Linked DNA regions of Homo sapiens: region 1 is linked to region 2. Evidence: fine-mapped expression QTL. Tissue or cell type: whole blood. Region 2 holds a variant in brackets; the other region holds the start of a gene. All regions are shown on one strand. Distances are from middle to middle.

Region 1 (8,000 bases), 71 kb before region 2:
GCATGGCAGGGGGACCCTAGGAGCAGGCTGGGCACTGAGCCCTCCCCTCCTCCTGCCTTGCAGAGCTCAGGCCCCGGGGCCTCCAGCGGCACCAGCGGAGACCACGGTGAGCTCGTCGTCCGGATTGCCAGTCTGGAAGTGGAGAACCAGAGTCTGCGTGGCGGTGAGGCCCCGGGCCAGTGGGTTGGGGCTGTCCCTGGCCCCTGCCATCTAACCGTGCTCCCCTTGCCCCCCCAGTGGTACAGGAGCTGCAGCAGGCCATCTCCAAGCTGGAGGCCCGGCTGAACGTGCTGGAGAAGAGCTCGCCTGGCCACCGGGCCACGGCCCCACAGACCCAGGTGAATGCTCTCCCCACGCCTGACACTGCAGGGGACCACGTGGCCCTGCTGGCTTCCACGTCGCCCTGTGGGCTGGCCCCAGCAGCAGTGATGAGCTGGCAGCCAGGATACTGGAGTCCTCAGGTCCCCAGGAAGGTTTACAGTTAGCCCTGGGCAGGTGGAGGCAGTTTTTGTCTTTCCTGGGGCCCTGCATGTACACAGCTGCGGTACACAGGGGCTGCCCTTCCTCCAGTCAAAGGAGGGAGGAGGGCCAGGAGGTGGCCAGGCAGCTCTGGGCCCTGGTTGGGGCGTCTCAGCCGTGCCTCCTGTCCCTTCCCCTGTGGCAGCACGTATCTCCCATGCGCCAAGTGGAGCCCCCAGCCAAGAAGCCAGCCACACCAGCAGAGGATGACGAGGATGATGACATTGACCTGTTTGGCAGTGACAATGAGGAGGAGGACAAGGAGGCGGCACAGCTGCGGGAGGAGCGGCTACGGCAGTACGCGGAGAAGAAGGCCAAGAAGCCTGCACTGGTGGCCAAGTCCTCCATCCTGCTGGATGTCAAGCCTGTGAGTGGGCGGGGTGGGGCTTCAGGGGGCCAGGCACTGCCCTGGTGCCCGCCTAGCCGGCTCAGCCTGTGACCCTCCCCCTGCCCTCTGGGTTCTGGGGAGACTTTAAAGCCGAGTTTAGAAGTCTTGGGATAAACACAAACTTGGAGGCAGGAAGGTGTGAATTTGGATTGTTTTCTGTGGGCCCTTTAAGGAAACAGAATTGTGGACACACAGTGGTTGAGGGTAGGGTGCATGCAGGTACTTCCTGGGTGTTCTGAGGGTGGCTGACCCCAGCTTTTCCTCCCCTTTCCCCACAGTGGGATGATGAGACGGACATGGCCCAGCTGGAGGCCTGTGTGCGCTCTATCCAGCTGGACGGGCTGGTCTGGGGGGCTTCCAAGCTGGTGCCCGTGGGCTACGGTATCCGGAAGCTACAGATTCAGTGTGTGGTGGAGGACGACAAGGTGGGGACAGACTTGCTGGAGGAGGAGATCACCAAGTTTGAGGAGCACGTGAGTGAGCCGGCCGGGGAGAGGAGGGGAGAGGAGACTGGGGACCCTGGCCCATACCCTGCACTCCACCCCACGGCAGTGGGGAGCGAGTCCCAGAGTGAACCCCACCTCAGAGGAGGCTCCTGGCTCCGAGTGGGCTGTAGGGGAACAGCCCTGACCGTCACCCTCCGCCTCTCCTCAGGTGCAGAGTGTCGATATCGCAGCTTTCAACAAGATCTGAAGCCTGAGTGTGTGTACGTGCGCGCGTGCGTGAGGCCCTGCCACGATTAAAGACTGAGACCGGCCCTCTGGCTCCGTCCTGGTCATTTCCTGCTCGTACCTGGCCTGTCTCCCTCCCTGTCTCAGCCCCATCTCTGCCCTGCTGTTCCCACACAGTCATCCTGGCTGCTGCCACCCTCTGTGGCCATGTCACCTTGCCCCCAGCAGACCTCCGCCTGTCCCTCCATCTCCTGGCCACTCCCTCCCAAAGCTCTGGCCCTCCCTCTTCTTTCCATTGCAAAAGCAAGTCCAGTTCAGGGGGTTTAAAAAGCCAGAAACAGAAACTGTTAGGTCACTATCTGGAGAGGCCACCACCCCACCACTCTGCCTCCTGTTGGCATTGTCCCCATGGGAGCAAGCGTGCAAGCCTGGAATTGTCCAGGAAAGAAGTCCCAGTAGCACCCGGCCCTGCTGCCATGCCCTTTGTCATGTGCTGTCCCGGCCCTCCCCTCACCTCATTCATTCCTGGAATCCCTGCCCCTTGCTCCAGGGACTGTGCCCCTCCCATGATGTTCTGGGGTGGCCAGAACGTGGCTGCCTGGGCTCTGTGGAGCTGTGCCTCAGCATCCTGACAGCCGTATGTGGTCAGCATGGGTGGCCACACTCCCTCCCCTGGACCACCCGTGTTTGCATTGGGGTGAAAGAGGATGGGGTGTAATTACTTGATTACTTCTGGTCAGACTCTGTCCTCGGGGCCCCAAGCCACAGGGGAATGGATTCTCCCTGGGTAGTGGCCCCTGACTTTGCCCTCAAACCTTTAGAAAGTTTCCTGTGGGGCTTGGACTGCAGGACCCCATAAAAGCCACCACTGAGGGACACTGGGCCTTCATAGCCACAAAAGGTCTTTTGGTGCCAGCCGACAGTGGGCATGCGCCCCCCTGCCCCACGCCGCCCTTTCCTGGGTGCCAAGCTCTTTCCAAGCGACATTTGCGTCCATCTGGGCTGCCTCGTCCTAGCCTGGCTGCTCAAGCTCTAACTAAGGCAGCCTCTGGCCTCCCTCCCCAGGCCCAGGGCAGGAGCTGGCTGCTGGCCAGCGGTTGTCTTCTGGGTCGGTGGGGGTGGAGTCTGGCTGGTCTGTCCTCCACCCTTTCCGCCGCCTGGCAAGTCCTGAGCTGCACCTCATTGCCCGGCCAAAGGGCAGAGACACGAGCGACTGGGGGCACCTCTGGTGACCAAGACCGGGCTGCGCTCCAAAGAGGCCGTTGGGCCTGGAGTGGGGTTGGGGGGTCCGAGAGGAGTTGGGTGACATCCCCCACCCCATCCCGGGTCCAGCTGTTTCAGCCCCTCTCGGCGCGCCGATACTATTAGCCCCACCCGTCCTCCATCGAGTCCCGTGCCGCTCCCAAACGGCACGATAAGCCCCACAGGGAGTGCGCCATAGGCCGGGGCGCGTCACGGGGTCGGGGCGGGGCGGAGTCCGGACGTCGGGAGCAGGATGGCGGCGGAGCAGGACCCCGAGGCGCGCGCGGCGGCGCGGCCGCTGCTCACTGACCTCTACCAGGCCACCATGGCGTTGGGCTATTGGCGCGCGGGCCGGGCGCGGGACGCCGCCGAGTTCGAGCTCTTCTTCCGCCGCTGCCCGTTCGGCGGCGCCTTCGCCTTGGCCGCCGGCTTGCGCGACTGTGTGCGCTTCCTGCGCGCCTTCCGCCTGCGGGACGCCGGTAGTCCCCCGTCCGCGCGACGAGCCCCCCACGCCCGGCAGAAACCCCCACCTATGGCCGGTGGAAGTCCTTGTCCCCCCGTGGAACCCCCCATGTCCCACGACCGGTCTGTCCCCGCGCTGGTCTCAGCGCAGTTACCTCGTTTCCAGACGTGCAGTTCCTGGCCTCGGTGCTGCCCCCAGACACGGATCCTGCGTTCTTCGAGCACCTTCGGGCCCTCGACTGCTCCGAGGTGACGGTGCGAGCCCTGCCCGAGGGCTCCCTCGCCTTCCCCGGAGTGAGTAGGGGTAAGCGGGCGGCGCGGCGGCCACGGGGTGCTGGGCCGAGCGCGGAGCTGACTTCTCTCCCCGCAGGTGCCGCTCCTGCAGGTGTCCGGGCCGCTCCTGGTGGTGCAGCTGCTGGAGACACCGCTGCTCTGCCTGGTCAGCTACGCCAGGTGGGCTGCGGGCCACTGGCAGGGAGCGTGGGCATGGGATGGGCCCCCAGCGCCGGGGCTCCGTGCTGGACTGTGGCGGCGGGGCTGGCTGCCCAGGGGTCCCAGGACTGGCCTCCCGCCCCCACTCTTCAGGGTGTAAGGAGGGGCTGGGTGAGGGTGGAGCTCCCAGGTTGGAAGTTCCAGGCCCCAGGTAACCGCCGTCTTGGGTGGCCTAGTGATCCTCACCCTGGGACCCCCTGACTCTTGGCTCCCCACAGCCTGGTGGCCACCAACGCAGCGCGGCTTCGCTTGATCGCAGGGCCAGAGAAGCGGCTGCTAGAGATGGGCCTGAGGCGGGCTCAGGGCCCCGATGGGGGCCTGACAGCCTCCACCTACAGCTACCTGGGCGGTGAGTGTCTGGTGCGGGGCAAGGCAAGGGCCGGGAAGGAGGAGCCCCATCTTGGCCCGAGGTCCCCCAATCCCACCGCCTTCCTCCCCAGGCTTCGACAGCAGCAGCAACGTGCTAGCGGGCCAGCTGCGAGGTGTGCCGGTGGCCGGGACCCTGGCCCACTCCTTCGTCACTTCCTTTTCAGGCAGCGAGGTGCCCCCTGACCCGGTCAGTCCCTCCTCTAAACCCTGCTGTCTCCAGGCGACAGGCCCCAAGCCAGCCCTTGCCCTGGCGAGAGGTGTGCCACCCAGGCAGGTCACCCCAGTGCTGTCCCAGGAAGCTGGCACGGGCTGCATTACCTTTGCTCTCAAACTAGGGTGTCCCTGGCTGCTCCCAGGCCTCATCCTGCATTCCTGGCCCCCATTCTTCACCGACTCTGTTCCACAGATGTTGGCGCCAGCAGCTGGTGAGGGCCCTGGGGTGGACCTGGCGGCCAAAGCCCAGGTGTGGCTGGAGCAGGTGTGTGCCCACCTGGGGCTGGGGGTGCAGGAGCCGCATCCAGGCGAGCGGGCAGCCTTTGTGGCCTATGCCTTGGCTTTTCCCCGGGCCTTCCAGGGCCTCCTGGACACCTACAGCGTGTGGAGGTGAGCCCGGGCACTTTAGGGGTGGGCTCAGCAGAACCTCAGCAGCCTCTGACTCCCTTATCTATTTCTGCAGGAGTGGTCTCCCCAACTTCCTAGCAGTCGCCCTGGCCCTGGGAGAGCTGGGCTACCGGGCAGTGGGCGTGAGGCTGGACAGTGGTGACCTGCTACAGCAGGCTCAGGAGATCCGCAAGGTCTTCCGAGCTGCTGCAGCCCAGTGAGTTTCCCGGGGAGGAGGTGTGCCTGGTGGGAGATCCCCGGGGTTTGGGAATGGGCAGGGAAGGACAGTGAGGTACTCTGCTGAAGTTTCAGCGGTGATACTGCAGGCCGTGGCAGGGAAGTAAGTGGTGGGGCTCCCTAGGAGCTCCCAAGCAGAAGGTGAGCACAGGTGTCCTTGACTGAGGCGGGGCGGGGAGCAGGGGGACACCAGGGTGAATCAGGAAGACCCGAGGGGTGGCCCCCACCCTTTCTCCACCCACGCGGCAGGTTCCAGGTGCCCTGGCTGGAGTCAGTCCTCATCGTAGTCAGCAACAACATTGACGAGGAGGCGCTGGCCCGACTGGCCCAGGAGGTGGGGTGGATGAGTGGGTAGGCGGAGGGTGGCTGGGGGGCTCTGGGGGCCCCTGCAGGTTCTGGCTGGGCTCATTGCCACCTCCTTCCCCGCCCAGGGCACTGCCACCCCCTTCCCCACCCAGGGCACTGCCACCTCCTTCCCCCACCCAGGGCACTGCCACCCCCTTCCCCACCCAGGGCACTGCCACCCCCTTCACCCAGGGCAGTGCCACCTCCTTCCCCACCTAGGGCACTGGCACCTCCTTCCCCACCCAGGGCACTGCCACCCCCTTCCCCACCCAGGGCAGTGCCACCTCCTTCCCCACCCAGGGCAGTGCCACCCCCTTCCCCACCCAGGGCAGCTGGGCTCACGGCCACCCCCTTCCCCACCCAGGGCAGTGAGGTGAATGTCATTGGCATTGGCACCAGTGTGGTCACCTGCCCCCAACAGCCTTCCCTGGGTGGCGTCTATAAGGTAGGGACAGTGTCGGGGGCCCAGGTGGGGGCAGGTCTGAGGGATGGTGCTGGGTGGGGGATAAGGACCAGCCAGCTCAACGCCCTCTTCCTGCAGCTGGTGGCCGTGGGGGGCCAGCCACGAATGAAGCTGACCGAGGACCCCGAGAAGCAGACGTTGCCTGGGAGCAAGGCTGCTTTCCGGCTCCTGGGCTCTGACGGTGAGGCCCTCCCATCCCCCCTGCTGTCCACCTTCAAAGCACCAGGGCCCCCGCTTATTCTTGCCCCGTCCACACAGGGTCTCCACTCATGGACATGCTGCAGTTAGCAGAAGAGCCAGTGCCACAGGCTGGGCAGGAGCTGAGGGTGTGGCCTCCAGGGGCCCAGGAGCCCTGCACCGTGAGGCCAGCCCAGGTGGAGCCACTACTGCGGCTCTGCCTCCAGCAGGGACAGGTGGCTGCCCCACCGCCCTCATCCTGACCCCCAGCCCCGGTAGAGCCCTGACTGGGAGCTAGCCCCAAGCTTCTCTTTCCTTACCTCCTCCCTGCAGCTGTGTGAGCCGCTCCCATCCCTGGCAGAGTCTAGAGCCTTGGCCCAGCTGTCCCTGAGCCGACTCAGCCCTGAGCACAGGCGGCTGCGGAGCCCTGCACAGTACCAGGTTGGGGGGAGGCCCACCCTGTCATTCTGCCCTGTGCGCCCCCGCCCTCACCCTGCCCACCGCTCCTGTCCTCTGCTCCCTGCAGGTGGTGCTGTCCGAGAGGCTGCAGGCCCTGGTGAACAGTCTGTGTGCGGGGCAGTCCCCCTGAGACTCGGAGCGGGGCTGACTGGAAACAACACGAATCACTCACTTTTCCCCACAGCTTGTCCTGTGTTGTTTGTGTCGTTTGTTCACCCAGCCCACGGGCTGCGCCTCCCGGGCTGCGGCTGGGCTGGAGTCGGGAATCTGAGCTCGAGGTAGCAGGAAGATTTGCATCCCAGTGAAAGCACAGGCCCTGCCGGCGTGGGAGACAGCCCTGTGCTGAAGCCCGAAGGGCAGTGAGGAGTTCCCCGGCTTTGGGTAGGCTGTGGGGAGTCAGATCCCACACTAGAACTACAAAGCCACAGGCAGGGAGGGCTTTGGTGTCTGCCTTGGAGTTGAGGGAGTTGCTGCAGACCTTTCCTTGCTAGAGGCAGGCTGGGGACAGGACAGGGTTGGGGGTAGTGCCAGGTAAGAGGGTCCAGCCGTGGCCCTGGGCTCCCACGCCTGCCTAGGCACTGCCCCCCAGGCTCAGGGTCAGTGAAGACGTCTCAAACTCCCCAAGTCAAAAGGGAGTGCTCAGGTGTCTCCTGCCACTGCTGCTGCCAACCCAGCACCACCCTGGCATCTGGCGTCAGGGACACAGCTCCTGACCCAGCAGCCCACGGAAGGAGAGGAAGAATGGGGAAGAAGTTGAAGCTCCAGGAGATGACTCAGCCCCAGACACCTGGCCAGAGTGGCACTGCACGTGGCTGTGCTGGGCTGGCCCTGCCTCTGCACCAGCAAGTTCCTGATCTCAGGGTTCCGCCAGTTTGGGCAACGTGAGCTTCAAGAGGAACTGCTTGGGGGAGAGGTTCTAGGCTTGGCAGGAAGTGGAGGCTGGGGGCCTGGGCCTCTCTTGTCGAAGCAGCCTGAGGTGGCACAGACAGGCAAGGGTGTGGGGGGAATGCTGACCGCCTGGGGCACTTCCGTCTGCCCAGGCATTCCACCAGACCAGCTCACCTGGCTCCCCGGGCTTCAGGGTGGGCAGCACCACTGTGTGGTTGGCTGAGGGTGGAGGGTGGGGACTTGGAGCAGAGGCCCAGTCCAGCCAGCCCCGGGGAGTACGAGCTAGGAGAGAGATACAGACTCACACACATTGGACAGAACACACCACACCCCAGGCACCCCCAGGGCACCCGCGCACTCCGAGGGGCCCAGCCAGAGTGGCTGTATTCTTCCGTTCTTGCACTGCTGTAAAGAAATACCTGAGACTGGGTAATTTCTAAGGAAGAGAGGTTTAATTGGCCTGTGGTTCTGCAGGTACAGGAAGCATGGCTGGGGAGGCTTCAGGAAACTTACCATCTTGGTGGAAGCGGAAGCGGGCAGGTCTTACATGGCCGGAGGAAGGGGTGGGGCGGTGCCACGCACTTCCAGACAACCAGATCTTGAGAAGTCTTATCATGGGAACAGCACCAAAGGGGGAAGTTGCCCCCAGGATCCAATCACTTCCCACCAGGCCCCACCTCCAGCACTG
Region 2 (8,000 bases):
GTTTTCAGGAGTGACACTTGGGCACTAAGAAGTAACACGCAGTAAGGCAAAGAAGCCTGACCTGACCACTGCCAGCACTGCGCAGGAGTGTGATCATGGTGCCGCCGCCCGCCAGGCCCTGCCTGCCCCAAGCTGCCCCTCCTGGGCAGAAGTGTTCTAGAATGCAGAGTCCAGTCCTGTGTGCAGTCGGGGCTGGGAATTCCTAGAGGACTTGGCATGTGCTGGACCTGGGAGGGAGGGCGAGCTCTGGTTCCCAAGGTTAGAAGTGATTTTAGCCGAAGGGAGGCTGTGCATTTGGCGACGGGAATGGAGCTGGGCCAGGTCTGGGGGCTCCTGTACTTAGAATTTGGGGAAAGAGGTTGATGGGGAGGGGAACATGAACCCCCGGGGCCCGAGGGTGGCCCAGTGTCCCGAGTGTGGCCCAGTGTCCCTCCTGCCTTGCTTGGCCCCACCTGGCCTCTGAGCAGGACTGTACCCTAGCTTTGTCATGCTGTGGCTCCAAGGGGCCAGCATCGCCCCAGGCTCTGCGTCCCAGAGCAGCAGGCATTGGGCGGCCTGGGAGGCTTGTGGGAAGCCATGGTGGGAAGCAGGCTGCAGGCTGGCAAGTGGGCCATTTGGGCACTCTGGGGTTGGGGGTGGGCTGGTGGCAGCCCTGAGGCCCGGCCCCATGGCTGGCAGTGCTCCAGTGGGTGCCCTGACTGCCCAGGTGCCAAGGCTGGCCCCCAGCTTGGCCCAGGTGGGGCAGGAGCAGCCGGGCAGCCCATGCTCTCCTCAGGCAGAAGCAAGGAGCCTGCAGCAGGGCTGGAAGGTGGTGAGGTCACCTCGGGGTTATTGATAACTTAAGGACTTCTTACGTTCTCCAGCGCTTAGTTGAAACAAGCTATTATTGATTTTTTTGCTGGTTTCTCCTTGTTTGTAAGACCTTGAAAATACAATCGGCAGACTCTCTGATGTGGACTCTGGGGGACTCTGGGGAAGGCTTTGATGTCATGTTGGGGCCAAGTGTTCCTGACTTGCTCCTGTGCAGGCTGACAGGTGCCTGAGTAGAGGCTGCAGCTTGGATGGTGCTGGGGGAACGCCTGAGGGAGGGGCTCTTTGCTGACATCTGGACAGGGCAGTGTGGGCAGGAGAGTGAGCGAGTCTGTGGAGAGATGGGCTAGAAGCTCGGCCTCAAGGAGGGGCCCTGGCTGCTCAAGGTCCGTTGCGTTTAGGGCTCTGGAAAAGAATTTGGGAAATGGTAACAGTTACTGGTCCTGTCCAAGGAGCAGGGTGCCTCGAGGGCTGTTTGGCTGTGGGGGCCAAGAGGGTGTGTCCTGGGCAGTCAGGGGTCCCGGGCACAGGGGAAGCTGGGCACTGACTGGAAGGAAGTGAGGTCCCCTGGGCTGGGCTGGGTGGGGTCCTCCTGTGGGCGACCCTGAAGGGGGTGGAGGGGGGCGGGGGCCTCTTGCAGCAGCCCCTGAGCCTTGGGCTGCCAGGGAAGCTGTTGGGAAGGCGGGCCTGTGCCCACTGCTGAGTTAGCTTTAATGATCTGGGCAGTCAGAGCTGTACATGATGCAAGCTGGGCAATTAGACGCAACCCTCGAAGCTGTGGGTAAATTGCCAGCTATCAAGTGGAAGGGAACTCGGGCAAAAGATTCCTGTTAATTGCATGAAACATTCAGCAAGAAAAAAGCCGTCGTGTCTATCACCCTGCAAAATGTTATGAAAACAGTGACTAAGTACATAAGTCTGTCTGGGCACAGCGGTGAGGAGGTGCCGCTTGAGGAGGTGAGTGCTCCAGCGCCCCTCCCCTGTGCAGGGCACAGGCCAGGAGCCTCCCAGCCCCGCCCCTCTGGCCTGGGTGGAGGTGGCCCATCTGCCTTCCTCACTGCTCTGCTGGAAGTCAGTCAGCCACCTCGAGTCCCCCTGTTGCGGATACTGTCTAGGGGACTCCAAGGCATCCCCGGCTGCCAGACCCCTGGCTTCTCCTGGTTTTCCTGTGGTGTGGGCATTCCCTTGTTTCTCCAGATGGCTGGAGGGTGTGCGGGGCTGGTGCCCGCCTCTCAGAGGCTGCACTGGCTAGCTCCTGAAGCGTCGGCTGCCAGGCGCCCTGGGGATGTGTGTGCCACATGGGTTGAGGGTTTTATCCACGGGGCGATGGAGGGTCTTCAAGCTCCGGCGGAGGCGGTGGGCAGAGCTGGCACTGTGGGTGGCCTCTCTGACCCTACCCTTGCCGGCCTTCCCTGACCCATGTCTGTGCCCTGGGTTTTCTCTACAGCGTCCAGCCTGCATGCCGTGCGGACTGCACCCACCAGCAAGGTGATCAAGACCCGCTACCGCATTGTCAAGAAGACGCCGGCCTCGCCTCTCAGCGCCCCGCCCTTCCCCCTGTCTCTGCCCTCCTGGCGGGCCCGGCGGCTCTCACTATCCAGGTAGGAAGGCTTCCTGCAGGCTCCTGCAGGCCTGGGAACTGGGCTGTCTGGCCCTGCCCTGAGGGCTGCAGGGTAGAATCCAAGGGCCAGGGGGAGCTGAGCACATCCCAGAACTGCTTGGTGTTGGGCTCGTTGGCTGGGGACCAGCCTGATTTTTCTGTGTCTTTAGCAATTTCTGCACCAAATAGGAGGCCAGCTTGTGTTTACCACATACACGTGAAGACGGACGGACACACATGCACACACATGCTCTGCTGTTCTCAGCAAGCCTATTAGCTGGTGAGGGCTCTGTGCCATGAAAGCTTCTGCTGCCCAGACGGTCAGGGCCCACGCCATGTGCTGTCTGAGCATCTCTCGGGGAGAAGCTTCTGGTGGGAGAGGCTGGGCCTTCAGTGGTCTGTCTGGAAGCTGTCAATGTATGATTGTCAAGGCGGTGATGTGAGCTACTCCTTGCCCTGCTGCTGGCTGCCTGTCCGTGTTCTGGCCCCCACTCGCACTCTGACCTCGATGCAGGCTGGGAGGGCGGCTCTGTCGGCAGGGAACAGCTTTTGCCCTCCTGGGGCCGCTATCCCGGGAGGCTTTGCCACCTGCTCAGTCAAGGTTGCTCAGCCTCTGGGCCTCAGGAGGCCTGGCTCTAGGAGGTTGGCCCCTTCCTTTGCTGTGGTGGTGGTGCCCCATCTCCAGGTTGGGAGAGGGTAATAGCTCTGGCAGGCAGATGGGAAGCAGGCAGTGGCAGACCCCTCCCTCTGTCTTCTGACCCTCCCCGCGGGAATCTGCTCCTGGGGGAGTGGCGTGGGCCAGAGATGGTGGGCAGGGCCTCAGGGCGAGCAGCCACGGCCCAGGGCACGGCCACCCACCGGACCGTAGCTGCCTGGTGGTTCCCTGCTGCTAGCCAGAGGTTTCCAGGCCTGAGGCTAACCCCAGGGGATCCACCCACCAGTATGGACAGCCCTACCCAGCTCTGGAGCCTCGTGGCAGGTCAGCCAGCTGGCGAGCCCACCAGGTGGTGTCCTGCTGCCTCCCGTATCACCAGGCCACACTCAGCTTGGCCCTGCTGCTGAGTTTTCTGGAGGCAATAGCTGGAGTATATTTTAAATTAATTTTACTGCACTTTTTGTAATATTTTTGTTTTAAATAGATTTATAAGCATCTCGGGGGCTATTTCTGCAAATTTATGAAGATAATTTTTATTCTCTCGATAAGGTTAAATTTACACCTGCTATTTCCATATTAATTCACATTGCTAAGTGGATCTAATTTTCTTCCGTTCTTCTATCTGGTGAGCATGGCCTTTCCTAATGCAATTTCCCCCACACTAAATCACTGTGATCGGGAGTCATGATCGAGCTAAATTAACTTAAATTAATTTACTTAATAAGAGCCCCGGATCATCG[G/C]GAATGAGGTTCAGATTTATGGATTCTCCGCTCCTGCTTCCCGTCCTGTGGTCGTCGTCAGCCCGACGTCGAGGGTCCACCTCTCCCAGGGGTGCGGCTCGGGGCCAAGTGATGATTTTCCTCAGGGCGGACCCAGCAGGGCCTCTCCTTCTGGATTCTGAAGGCCAAGAAGGCGTCTGGTTTGGGTCCGGCTGGTCTGGTTCCTGTAGCTGGGCCTGCCCAGGAGGGCCCTGATGGTGTTGTTGCACAGAAACAAGTGCCCATGCCCTGGGGCTGAGGAGGCCGGGAGGAGGAGGAGGTGGCAGCCGGCCCAGCGCCCAGGGCCTCCTGTCGGCGCCATGTGGCTGAGAGCAGCGGGTCAGCTGATAGGCTCCCTCCAAGTTCCCTGTCCTTCCAAAGTGAAGCCTGGCCAGCTGCCCTGCAGGGAGCGGCCGTGACTCTCTGAGTGCCCTGGTGTAGGGGCTGCACCACAGGCATGGGTGGGCAGGAGGTGGAGCAGGCATCGCCTTTGATGGATCAAGGGCCCCAGCACCAGAAGCCTGAATTCAGCCCACCCCTGGAGGCCCTGGCTGTGGTTGGTGGCCATGGGCTCCAGGCCTCAGTGTCTTCTCCGTGTGTGAAGGCCAGGCTGAGTCCGCCCCAGGATGCACATGTGGCTGAGGGGGTGTGTGAGGGGCCCTCCTTGCTTTCCTGACCGCCTCACCCCAGTCCTGTTCCACTCCTTGCCAGGCGTCTGGGACCCTTCGGGACACGAACCCTGGGCTTGTGGATAGGGTGTGGGAGTGGAGTGGGGAGGGTGCTGAGCTGAGGGGCACGACTCTTAGGAAGTCCTGGGAAGAATGGCCACCAGTGGGCTGGGCCTGCCTCGCCCAGGGTCACCTGCCACCTGCGTCCCAGCATGGCTGCCTGGCCTGCTGTTGCCTGTTTGCGTGCCTGGGCTCGGGGTTGTTTAGGCAGAAAGGGCGTCTGGGCCAGCGGCTGGTCTAGCCTGGCCCATGCGCCATCTCCGGTGCTGCATCAGAGCCAGGGCTGCCTGCATGTGGCTGGACCCTCAGCCCTCCCTCGGCAGGCCCAGGCCACCATGGACTAAGGGCTGCCATGGAGAGGAAGAAGGCAGGCTGTCCTGCCAGTTGGCTGGCTGGAGCCTGAGACCAGAGCTCTCCTTGGGCCCCAGCTCCCTCTCCCATCCCTGGAGGGGCTGGCGGGCAAGCCCCAGCAGTCCTGGAAGCCACGGTGGTCAGAGTTGGCAGGGGCTGGTGGACACGCGGGAGGGGAGGGAGGCAGGGTGACTAGTGGCTGAGGGACAGCGCCGGTGTGGGATGCCCCAGCCGACCCCTCACTGTGATTGGAGATCTGGTCACCCTGAGAGGAAGTCATCTAGGCCTCTTGCCCTCAGAGCCTTAGCATCTTGCTCTGTTGCTGAAGCAAACCCGCGAGTTCCGAGCATGGAGCCGGGCCTGCTCTCTGTGAAGCTGCCAGCTCCTGGGAGATGGACGAGGCCAACAGCACTGCTCTGGGAGGAGAGGGAGCCGCTGGCAGAGGCTCTGCGAAGGGACGGCAGTGGGGAGTACAGTGAGGCCCAGGGGGCTCTGAGTGTTGAGGGAAGGCCCTGGGGGTCTGTGTGTGAAGGCCAGGCTGACCCTGCCCCAGGATGCACATGAAGGTCCCAGGTGCTGGGAGTGGCTGAGCATCTTGGGTAGGGTGTAGTTGGGGGCAGCGCAGTGCAGCGTGAACCTGACAGCCCGTCCCTGCCTGCTTGTACCATGCGAAATGGGTAGGGTCTCTAGGCTTGATTGTGGTGGGGTGTTCAGGACAGGGCCTGAGCTGGAACCCCAAAGACGGAGGAGGGGGCAGGACCTCTACCACCCGTCCTGAGAGGAATGGGACTGGGCCCTGCCCAAGGTGGGGACAAGAAACAGTAACACAGGCTGCCGCAGTGAAGCTTGCACAGCTCTGCTGCTGACAACAGCCCTCACCTTGTCCTCTCTCTGACCCTGTCCCTGGGACCTCCCCTGCCCTCTTTTCCCGTCCCCTCCCCTTGGCTGTGATGCTCATGGCGGGGACTGCACCGCCCTGAGGAGGCACGAGAAGGGGCCCCTCTCCTGGCCATGAGCCCCCAGGACCCCTCTGCAGTTCCTCTCAGCTTTCGGTTGGAGAGCCCCAGGCCCTGAGCTATTGGCCCTAGCTCTGCCCTGGGCACTGGGGAGGGCTCAGGGTGATTAGGCCTGTTCCCTCCTCTGGGAAGCTCTAGAAACTCCCCTTCCCTGCAGCCCGAGGGAAGGAGGGTAGGCAAGTGAGTGCCCGGCCTGAGTCTAGGCCTCTGCCCTGTCCCAGGGGGTGATTTGGCACACGCGCCCTCTCTCTCCCCCTCCTAATTTAAGTAGAAACTTACTGTCGGCCTGGTGGTCATGTTGGGCCCATGTGGAAGGCTGGAGGACAGCGTCAGGGCCCGTTGATGGCTGGGTTTGTAATAGGGGCTGGGGCCTCTCCTCCCTGTCAGCGGCTTTCTCTGGACCTGAACATGGAGGAGGCGGTGGGGAGCCAGCTGGGTGCTGGAGGAGGTAGGTGGTCGGGAGATGGCTGGGTGCTGGAGGAGGTGGTCGGGGGATGGCTGGGTGCTGGAGGGGATGGTGGTGGAGCCGGCTGGGTGCTGGGGGAGGTGGTGGTGGAGACAGTTGGGTGCTGGAGGAGGTGGTGGTGGAGACAGTTGGGTGCTGGAGGAGGTGGTGGTGGAGCCGGCTGGGTGCTGGGGGAGGTGGTGGTGGAGCCGGCTGGGTGCTGGGGGAGGTGTTGGGGAGATGGCTGGGTGCTGGAGGAGGTGGTCGGGGGATGGCTGGGTGCTGGGGGAGGTGGTCGGGAGATGGCTGGGTGCTGACCAGTGGCCTCAGGTTTGTGGCCGGCCAGTGCTCGTCGTTGTCAGATGGAAGGCAGAGGCTGCTGGGCAGTAGCTTCTGGGGCTTCTGTGTGCTGCCAGCCAGGGTCTCTGAGGATGGGCACACCATTGAGGCACACGCCAGACATCATGTGTGGAGACTGGGGTGGGGCAGAGGGTGGGAGGAGAAAAGGAGCAGTGCCTGTATGCCAAGGGCAGAACGGGACTCCTGCCTCAACGGGTGGCATCCACGGTGCCACCTGTGCTCCCATCAGAGGCCGCGTTGCCCTGGCCTGCAGATGCCCGGCCATGTGGCTGCTTGGGGCGGGGCAACAGCTGACGGGGGCATGCTGGCGGTGTGCTGGCCATGTGCCACCTCTCCCCAGAAGCTGAGGCATGGGACTGGGTTGTTCTGCTGAGCGTGGTGCCCGTCGCATCTGCCAAATACACAGGACGGGGCTGTTGCTCTGGCTCGGGGACCCTGGGAGCTTACTGTACTGCTGCCTTACGCATACCTCGGCCATGCCACAGTGGTCCCTGAGAGCCGGCCTTGGCCAGCCCTCCCCCGGGCCCCAGGACTGCTGCCTTGAAGTGAAGCCTGTCCCAGAGGGCCTGGAATGCAGGGGTGCGAGGCAGAAGGTCAGTGAAGGGTTTTGGAGGAGTCACCCTGAAGGCTGAGGCTCTGCTGAGGGGATTTAATTTTTTTGTTGTTCTGAGATTTGTAGATTTGCCGGTGCCCTCACCAGCTCCAGCAAGTTCATTAATCTGAACTGAAGCTGAAATGTGACTTATATCCCTAACTGCTTGTCACTTTTTTTCTCTTTCCAAATTCATTTGACATGAAAGTGCGAAATAAACAGAAGCTGCTGTGCTTAAGCAGATGAATCGGAGGCTTTTCCATCTGACTACAAATGGTCCTGTCACGAGGCTGCCTCTCACTGGGCTGCCTTATTTTATTTTATTTTAGTTTGTGTCTGTGCGGTAAATCTTAAGTAATCTGTGCAGTTTTGACGAGAGTTAGGCCAGGATTTTGAAGGGCTCTGAAACGCTTCTCCAAAGTGGCGTCTCATTAAAGAGGAATTCAGCCTGGGGACGGGAGGGGTCCTCACTGCGATGCTGCGCTCCCCACGCGTGTCTCCTTAATGAGCAGGTGTGCCTGCACAGCCTCCTGGGACGCCAGCCACCCTGCCCCACCTCCTGCCCGTCTTCTGGTTTGGGCACTGTCTTCGTCGGCTGGGGCCGTGTCACACAGTAGCACAGACTGGGGCTTCAGCATCAGACGCTGACTTCTCACAGTCCTGGGCCGGACGTTTGAGACCAGGT

What was found. PIP is the estimated chance that this variant, and not a neighbour inherited with it, causes the effect.
Region 1: it holds the start of NAPRT, and the variant in region 2 is fine-mapped to the expression of NAPRT in whole blood (INTERVAL, PIP above 0.99).

The regions. Positions count from the first base shown.
Region 1 is chr8:143,573,392-143,581,391 of GRCh38, reverse strand. NAPRT (nicotinate phosphoribosyltransferase) reads left to right here and starts at 3,062. Exons shown (of 13, transcript NM_145201.6): 1 at 3,062-3,299; 2 at 3,449-3,576; 3 at 3,653-3,735; 4 at 3,993-4,123; 5 at 4,215-4,330; 6 at 4,550-4,746; 7 at 4,820-4,960; 8 at 5,230-5,314; 9 at 5,690-5,770; 10 at 5,867-5,969; 11 at 6,047-6,201; 12 at 6,299-6,406; 13 at 6,492-6,607. The coding sequence starts at 3,074. The coding sequence ends at 6,554. It overlaps EEF1D (eukaryotic translation elongation factor 1 delta), which reads left to right. Exons shown (of 10, transcript NM_001130053.5): 6 at 64-163; 7 at 238-338; 8 at 665-886; 9 at 1,186-1,380; 10 at 1,562-1,664. The coding sequence ends at 1,600.
Region 2 is chr8:143,502,157-143,510,156 of GRCh38, reverse strand. ZC3H3 (zinc finger CCCH-type containing 3) reads left to right here. Exons shown (of 12, transcript NM_015117.3): 4 at 2,258-2,411. SNORD149 (small nucleolar RNA, C/D box 149) reads left to right here and starts at 3,909; the gene lies at 3,909-3,972. The variant G/C (reference allele first, on the strand shown) is at 3,806.